Homo sapiens: one gene and its partner. The protein of the gene in region 2 purifies or fractionates together with the protein of the main gene of each other region. This does not show direct contact. Each region holds a gene or a part of one and is shown on either strand. Other genes may lie near its edges.

The links.
Region 1: the proteins of ZC3H15 (region 2) and HMGN5 fractionate together in Homo sapiens (co-fractionation; one large-scale study listed by BioGRID). This does not show direct contact.

What each region holds. Positions count from the first base shown.
Region 1 is NC_000023.11:81,191,580-81,195,413, forward strand, and holds part of HMGN5 (high mobility group nucleosome-binding domain-containing protein 5), read right to left. Parts: intron 1-3,834. UniProt on the Homo sapiens protein: Preferentially binds to euchromatin and modulates cellular transcription by counteracting linker histone-mediated chromatin compaction.
Region 2 is NC_000002.12:186,492,614-186,496,447, forward strand, and holds part of ZC3H15 (zinc finger CCCH domain-containing protein 15), read left to right. Parts: intron 1-2,619; coding exon 2,620-2,721; intron 2,722-3,834. UniProt on the Homo sapiens protein: Protects DRG1 from proteolytic degradation. Stimulates DRG1 GTPase activity likely by increasing the affinity for the potassium ions.

The DNA of each region.
Region 1 (3,834 bases), on a different chromosome or scaffold from region 2:
AGTGTTGAACCAACCCTGAATTCTTAGTGTTGGGAAAGGCAATCTTGTGTATGCAGTCTTTTGACCCCCACATGGCCATTTAAAATAGGCATTGGGACTAAAATATTTCCTTAGCAAGAGATAAGCAGCCTACACACCCTGTTCCAGGCTAGAAATATTTTTCTGTTTCAGACTTACTAAGTGTTCTTTTGTTTTACTAAGTGTATGCATCCATGGCTCTCAGACATGTCCTAGCTTTCTGTCTTTCAGACTGGGTTGGTGTGGGTGTGGATAAGGGTCCTTTTTCTAAGGCACAAGAAGGGTGTGCTTATCCAGTTGCTCTGTGTTTGTTGCTAGGGGGTACCGTCTAGCCATGGAGGGTACCAACACACACTATTGAAGCTGATTGTGCTCTGTTTTTTTTCTATATAAGTAAAGTGTTGTTTCATCCAGGGCTTGACTGCATTATGTTCTCCTTCATGACTCTGATAAAGCGATGCAATGGGCATATGTGATTAGAGTCAATTCCTGGGATTAGCAAGTGATGCCCAGTGTTCTGCTTAACAATTAGAATAACCCAACTTGGTCATAAAGTACTATCCTTTTTATATACTACTGGATTTGGTTTGATACTACTTAGTTTAGTAACTTTGCTTCTATTTTTCAAGAGATGAGATTGGCCTGTGTATTTCTTTTCTTGAAATGTACTCATCAAGCTTTGGAATGAACACTAAGCTGCCCTTGAAATGATTGAGAAATATCCTTTTTCTTCTATTATATTGAAGAATATGGGTAAAATTGGCATTATTTATTCTTTAAATGTTTGGTAAATTTTGCCAATGAAACAACCTGGGCCTATAGTTTACTTTGTGGGAAGGTTTTTATTTATATATACAATTTTAAATTTTTCTTATGTCTTTTAGTTCTGTACATATTTTAAACTCACAAGACATTTGTTATTATTGTTTTACACATTGCTCATTCAGATTTACTCAGATATTTGCCATTTCTGTTGTTCTTCACTTCTTGCTGCATCTCTTAGCTATAATCTTTTTTATTTTACCCGAAATACATTCTTTAGTATTTCAATTAGTGTAAAACTTTGGTGAATAATTCTCTTTTGTTTATATGAAAGTGTCTTTATTTCACATTAGTTTGTAAGGGATATTTTTGTTGGCTTTAGATTTCTATGCTGACAGTTATTATTTTAGCACAGTTATATTCTATGCTGACAGTTATATTCTTTTAGAACATTGAAGCCATGTTTTCATTGTCTTCTGCCTCTCATTTGTTCTGATGTACAGTCAGCAATAATTTTTTTTTTTGCTACTCCTTTGATGGTAATACCTCTTTTTAATTTTTGTGTGCTTTTCTAGTCTTTAGTTTTCAGTCACATCTATTTTTTTAGGTAAGATTATTTTCAATCGAGTGCTAGACTTTGAGATGAAAATGTGGTACTAACAATGAGGCTCCAGATGATGCTATCTTTTTTCAAAGACATATAACTTTTGCTTTTGGAGCCTATCCAAGTCACCTTAAAGGTTCCTTTGGAGTCCATTCAAGTGTTGTTTTTCTTGTTTCTGGATTATAGCTGTTCGGAGAAATGATGCTATGTGACTTCCAAGATAAGGTCATAAAAGATGATCTAGTTTCTGCCTTGTTCATTGGGCTGTAAGCTGCAGTATGAGAAGATCAACTCTCTGAAGCTGCCATGCCATGAGAAAGTCATGTGGTGAAGCCATATTCAGGCACTCTAGTCAACATTTACATCTGAGCTTAATGTTTGAATCATTTCAACAAAGGCACCAGAAACACAAATAAAGAAACCTCCAAATGGTTTTAGCCTGCAGCCATCAAGTGACTCCCAGCCTTCAAGGCTTTCCAGCTGACGTCCTAATTACAGTAGAGAAGAGACAAGTAGTCACCTCTGTGCCCTGGCTGAATTCTTGACCTGCAGAATCTGTGAGTATAATAAAATGGTTGCTTCATGCCACTAAGCTTTAGGGTTGTTTGTTACACAACAATGGTGAAAGGAATGAGTGTTCTGGAGGTGTCAAAGGAAATAAGGAAATGAAAATGAATAAAAAGTATAAGATTGGAAGAAAAAATAGAGCTGCCATTTTTTATGGTTGATGTTATTGTGTAAATAGAAAATGTAAAAGAATATACAGATAAACTATTAATATTCACATATGAGTTTAGAAAATTACTTGATACAAGGTCAACATACTATAATCAATTGTATTTGTATATTGCGGTTATAAACATTCTACCTTTTTAAAAGGAAATATAAAGGGCAATGAATAGTCAGGACACTTCATGAAGAAGACCAAAGTAGGAGAATTTGCCATATTACATTTCAAGATATTTAAATTTATAATAAGTAATATAGTGTGGTAATGGCACAAGGGTAGACAAATAGACAAATGAAACAGAATACAGACACCAGAAACAGACTCACGCATGTATAATCATTTGATTTTTGACAAAGATGGTATTGCAAAATAGTGGGAAAAGGGTGTAGTTTCAATTATTGGTGCTAGAATAATTGGATAGCTATTTGAAAAAAATTAAACTTGACATATATCTCAAACCTTACACACAAATCAATTCCAGGTGGAATGTAGATCTAAATGTAAAAAGCACCACAATAAAGCTTTTATAAATAAATGTAAGATAACATTTTCACGTTCTCAGGGTCTGGAAAGATTTCTTTAAAAATTCACAGAAAAGCATTAACCATAAAGAAAAATATTTTATATATGACTAATTAAAAATGTTTAAAAAAAGGCTAGCCTCAGGATAAAAGTTACTTGCAACACATAGGGACAAAATGTTGCTATTAGGAATAGAGACAAAAAAATATAGAAAAATAGAAAAAGTTCTTAACAGATATTCCACAAAAGAAAATATATAAATGGCAATAAATATATGAAAAGATGCACAACTTCTTAGTAATCAGTGAAATGTAAATTAAAACCACTGTGAAATACTATTCCTCAGAAAATAAAAGGGCTAAAAGAGAAACAAAGTGTCCAGAATGAGGACCTTACACTACTTTATACAATGCTAGTCATACCATTCTTGGATTATGACATTCAATTCTGGGACGACCTTTTGTAGAAGAGAGAAACTGACAAACTGAAACATATTTAGTGACACCTCTAGAGATCACAGCTTATGAAGAATGGCTAGAGAAACAGGAAATACTAAGTTGGAGAAGAGAAGGCTTCATATTACAAGGATAAAGATGAGTTTATAATGGGTAATTATTAGAATCAAAGAAACATGAAAGGAAACAGTTCTCAGCTTAATCTCAGAAAATAATGTTCTAATGTTTTAAGCTGACTAAAAGCAGAATGGAAATGCCTCTGGAATTTTCAGCTCACTGTAACTGGAGGTGTTCATAAGTAATTTCTGGACAACCACTCTATGGAGTTATTACTGGTAGGATGTGGGGGGAAGATAGAGAGCGTATTAGTCAGGGTTTTCTAGAGGGACAGAACTAATAAGATAGGTGTATATATAAAGGGGAATTTATTAAGAAGCATTGACTCACACGATCACAAGATGAAGTCCCACATTAGGCTGTCTGCAAGCTGAGGAGCAAGAAAGCCAGTCCAAGTTCCAAAACCTCAAAAATAGGGAAGCCGACAGTGCAGCCTTCAGTCTGTGGTCGAAGGTCCAAGAGTCCCAAAGCTGAAGAACTTGTATTCCAATGTTCAAGGGCAGGAAGCATCTAGTACGGGAGAAAGATGTGGGCTGGGAGACTAAGCCAGTCTAGTCCTTCCATGTTCCTTTGCCTGCTTTTATGCTAGCAGTGCTGGAAGCTGATTAGATGGTACCCAGCCAGAC
Region 2 (3,834 bases):
TGTACTTTTTTGTCTTAAGACTATTGAAAGATCTTTTACTGATTTTGAGGTTGCTGTAAACATTATGTCATGTTGTATGTTTTTAAATACTAATTGTTTCAGTACTATTGTTTTCTTTTTCTAGCTTGTCCACGTGGTGGTATTTTGTATCTATTATTCTTTCTACTCATTATTACTTTTCCTTTCCCTTAGAAATAATAGCAAAATAAAGGCTATAAAATGGCCACTTGTTTCATACTAAATGCCACTCAGAGGGTCTCAAATTACTTTGAGAAGACCTTTTTGCCTCTTCTTCCTCTCTAAAACCACCCATAAACAAGAGAATGAGAAAGAAATACAAATTCTATTTTGAAATTAGAAGACATCTGTAATCTTGGACCTCAGCATATGAAGATTGGCAGTAGATGGATGAGTTGGTAACTGACTTAGAGCAGAGCGGTTATGTCTGAGTGCCTGTCTAGGAGTGTGCCTGTAAGAAGCAAGTGCATTTCCTCTGCAAAATTATGAAAAAAAAAAAAAACTCAACAATGGGAAGCACTAGGTAATACAGAAGGCAAGAGGCTGAAAACTAGAAGTTAAAAGTGTTAGGAGTAATTAATAATTCTTATCTACTACAGCTCAGCCAGGTGACTACCTCTGCAAGAAACAGGAGGGGTCTTCTTGGAGGTGGGAGGTGGCAGAGAACAGGCCTCTCTGCTTCTGGAACACTAAGCACAGAGGAGGTGGGATGTGAGCCTGAAAATGGAAGCTAGTAAGTCTGTACAGTAAACTGAGACCCCTTCTACCTGCTCTTTTCTCTTGTTTACAGTTAGACTTATTGCCCTCCCAGCTGGAGGATCTTTCTCCAGAGAACCAGAAAAGACCCAGAAAAAATATTTCAGATATTAGCATTTGGTTTCTTGTCAGGCTTGTCACACATTCACCTTAGGGAGAAGCTCACTAGTCAAGCCTGCTATATGAGTTTCTTAGAACTGCTGTAACATGACTACAAACTGGGTCACTTAAAACAACAGAAATTTATTCTCTCAGAGATCTGGAGGCTAGAAGTCTGAAATTAGTGTCAGCAGGGCCATGCTCCCTCCCTCTGAAGACTGTAGGGAAGAATTCTTCCTTGCCTTGTCCTAGTTTCTGGTGGCATCTGTCAATCCTTGGCATTCTTTGGCTTATATAGCAGTGTCACTCTGTCTTCACATTTCCTTCACTTTGTGCCTGTGTGGTCCTTATTAAGGCACCAGTTATTGGATCTAGGGCCTACCTTAATCTAGTATGATGTCATCTTAACTCATTACATCTGTGAAGACCTACGTCCAAATAAAGTCAAATTTATGGTCAGGTGGACTTGAATTTTGGGGGACATTCCAAAATTCAGCCCACTACAGACCACTGCTCCCCTCCACACACACGCTTGCTCATACTTGTGCAATGGCTTCTATATGTTTTTGTACTGCATACTTATTTTTTTTAATGTTTTTCTCCCCCCAACCCCATACTGCATACTTACTAAATATGAGTAGATAGCCAAGGATCACCATTAGTGCTTAGCACATAATGAGCATTCCATAAGTGATAGCTGCTGTTATATTGAATATTACCAAGTTACTGTATTAATATTCCAGATTTAAAGAAAATGTTGCTTTTAATTTACATACTTTTAGTATTTCCATCTTAGCAATAACTAGGAATGTATACATTTCAGTAGTTTGATTTCTTTATTAAATTTAATTGTTTTTGAGAGGATAACATTTATTAACTAAAAAACCAGTCCAGAACTGAATGTATCTTCCTCTTCTTATGTAGTAGTCCCAAAAATGTGTTCAGTATCGTATAACCTCTCAAGATACTCTGAGTAAAAATGGATTCTGCTACAAAGGATGATTTGGAGGTGCTGCATATTATTATATTCCCTCTGATAAGGGCTGTAAGATACCTTGTGCTTAAGAATTAAGAATCCTTTTAATCAAGCATTTTCCTAAATGTATTTAACTACAGGACTTCTTATCCCAATATAAGAACTTTGCACATCCCATAGAACTGATATCCAAAATATGCTTTAGAAAAAGCTTCATAGAAACTGGAAACCATCATTCTTAGCAAACTATCGCAAGGACAAAAAACCAAACACCTCATGTTCTCACTCATAGGTGGGAATCGAACAATGAGAACACTTGGACACAGGAAGGGGAACATCACACACCGGGGCCTGTTGTGGGGTGGCGGAGGGGAGGGATAGCATTAGGAGATGTACCTAATGTAAATGACGAGTTAATGGGTGCAGCACACCAACATGGCACATGTATACATATGTAACAAACCTGCACGTTGTACACATGTACCCTAGAACTTAAAGTATAATAAAAAATATATATAAAAATAATAAAATTTAAAAAGCTTCATAGAATAACAGGTTTAATGATGATAATGTTGAGTACATATTGAATTGTAAAGAATCTGGGTGATGATTTAAGGTCATATATTGCCTTGACTTGATGTTTAGTGTTTTGCATGTTTTTATATTAGTAAAGAATAATTATCAATAAAAATAATGATTTTTAGATATCATTGGAGGATATATATGGTAACATAAATTGCTAAGATATTTCTGTGCTCTTTCTCATGTAGGACAAAACTTTCGGTTTGAAGAATAAGAAAGGAGCAAAGCAACAGAAGTTTATCAAGGCTGTCACACATCAAGTTAAATTTGGTCAACAAAATCCACGTCAGGTAAGTAATTTAAATGTCCATATCTTTTTATAAATGTAATATTAATATAGCCTCTGTTTCAGATAAAATGTCTGGTATTATTATATAATTGTATTTCAAAACAGAATCCTACTTGAAATGTTTTTGCACCTTGGCCTTCCTTACCAGCAGTACCTCTTGGATATTGTCCAAGCCATTTTGATATAACTCTCATTTATTCTAATAATGATTGCATGCCGTTCTACAGTACAGGTGTGTTATATTCATCTATTTCACTGTTCATAAGTGATCACTTTGTTTCCAGCTTTCTGACACTAAGACCACCTGTAGAAATACAGGAGTTCTTACATGTGTTTATGCTTTTATTTCTGTGGCATAAATTAGCTGGTAACAGACTCCAGATCAAGGGAAATGGATTTCTAATTTTAACATTATAAATTTGCCAGATCACTTTCCATAGAGGCTGTAGTACTTCACATTTTCATTTGTAGTACATGAGCAATAGATACTAAAGTTCTTTTTAATGTGTTACAATCTGATAAGTATAAAGTGATATCTTATTGTTACATTGTTTCCCTCGCTACTGGAGAGTATCTTTTGTATACTTGTTAGCTGTTTGGGTTTGCACTTCTATGACTTCCCTATTGAAATTATTTGCTTTATTGGTTGTCTTTTTCTTGTCAATTTATGAGATACCTTTTGTCTGCATTGCAGATAATTGGTGATATTTCAGTTATGTTTTGCCATGCACCAATTTTTAACTTACATGTATATATAGAGTTTAATATTGCTAGATATGTTGCTAGCTTTTTAAAAATATGGTTATAAGGTCTCCCCTGCCACTGGATTCTGCATGTTTTTCCTAGATCATTTGTAATTATTTTATTTTTATAGTCTATGTCATATGAATTTATTTTATATATCTTAAAGTTCTCACTCTGTTGCCCAGGCAGGAATACAATGGTGTGATCTTGGCTCACTGCGGCCTCTGCCTCCTGGGTTCAAGCCATCCACCTGCCTCATCCTCCTAAGTAGCTGGGACTACAGGCGCATGACACCACACCTAGCTAATTTTTGTATTTTTTGTAGAGACGGGATTTCGCCGTGTCACCCAGGGTGGCCTCACAATCCGCC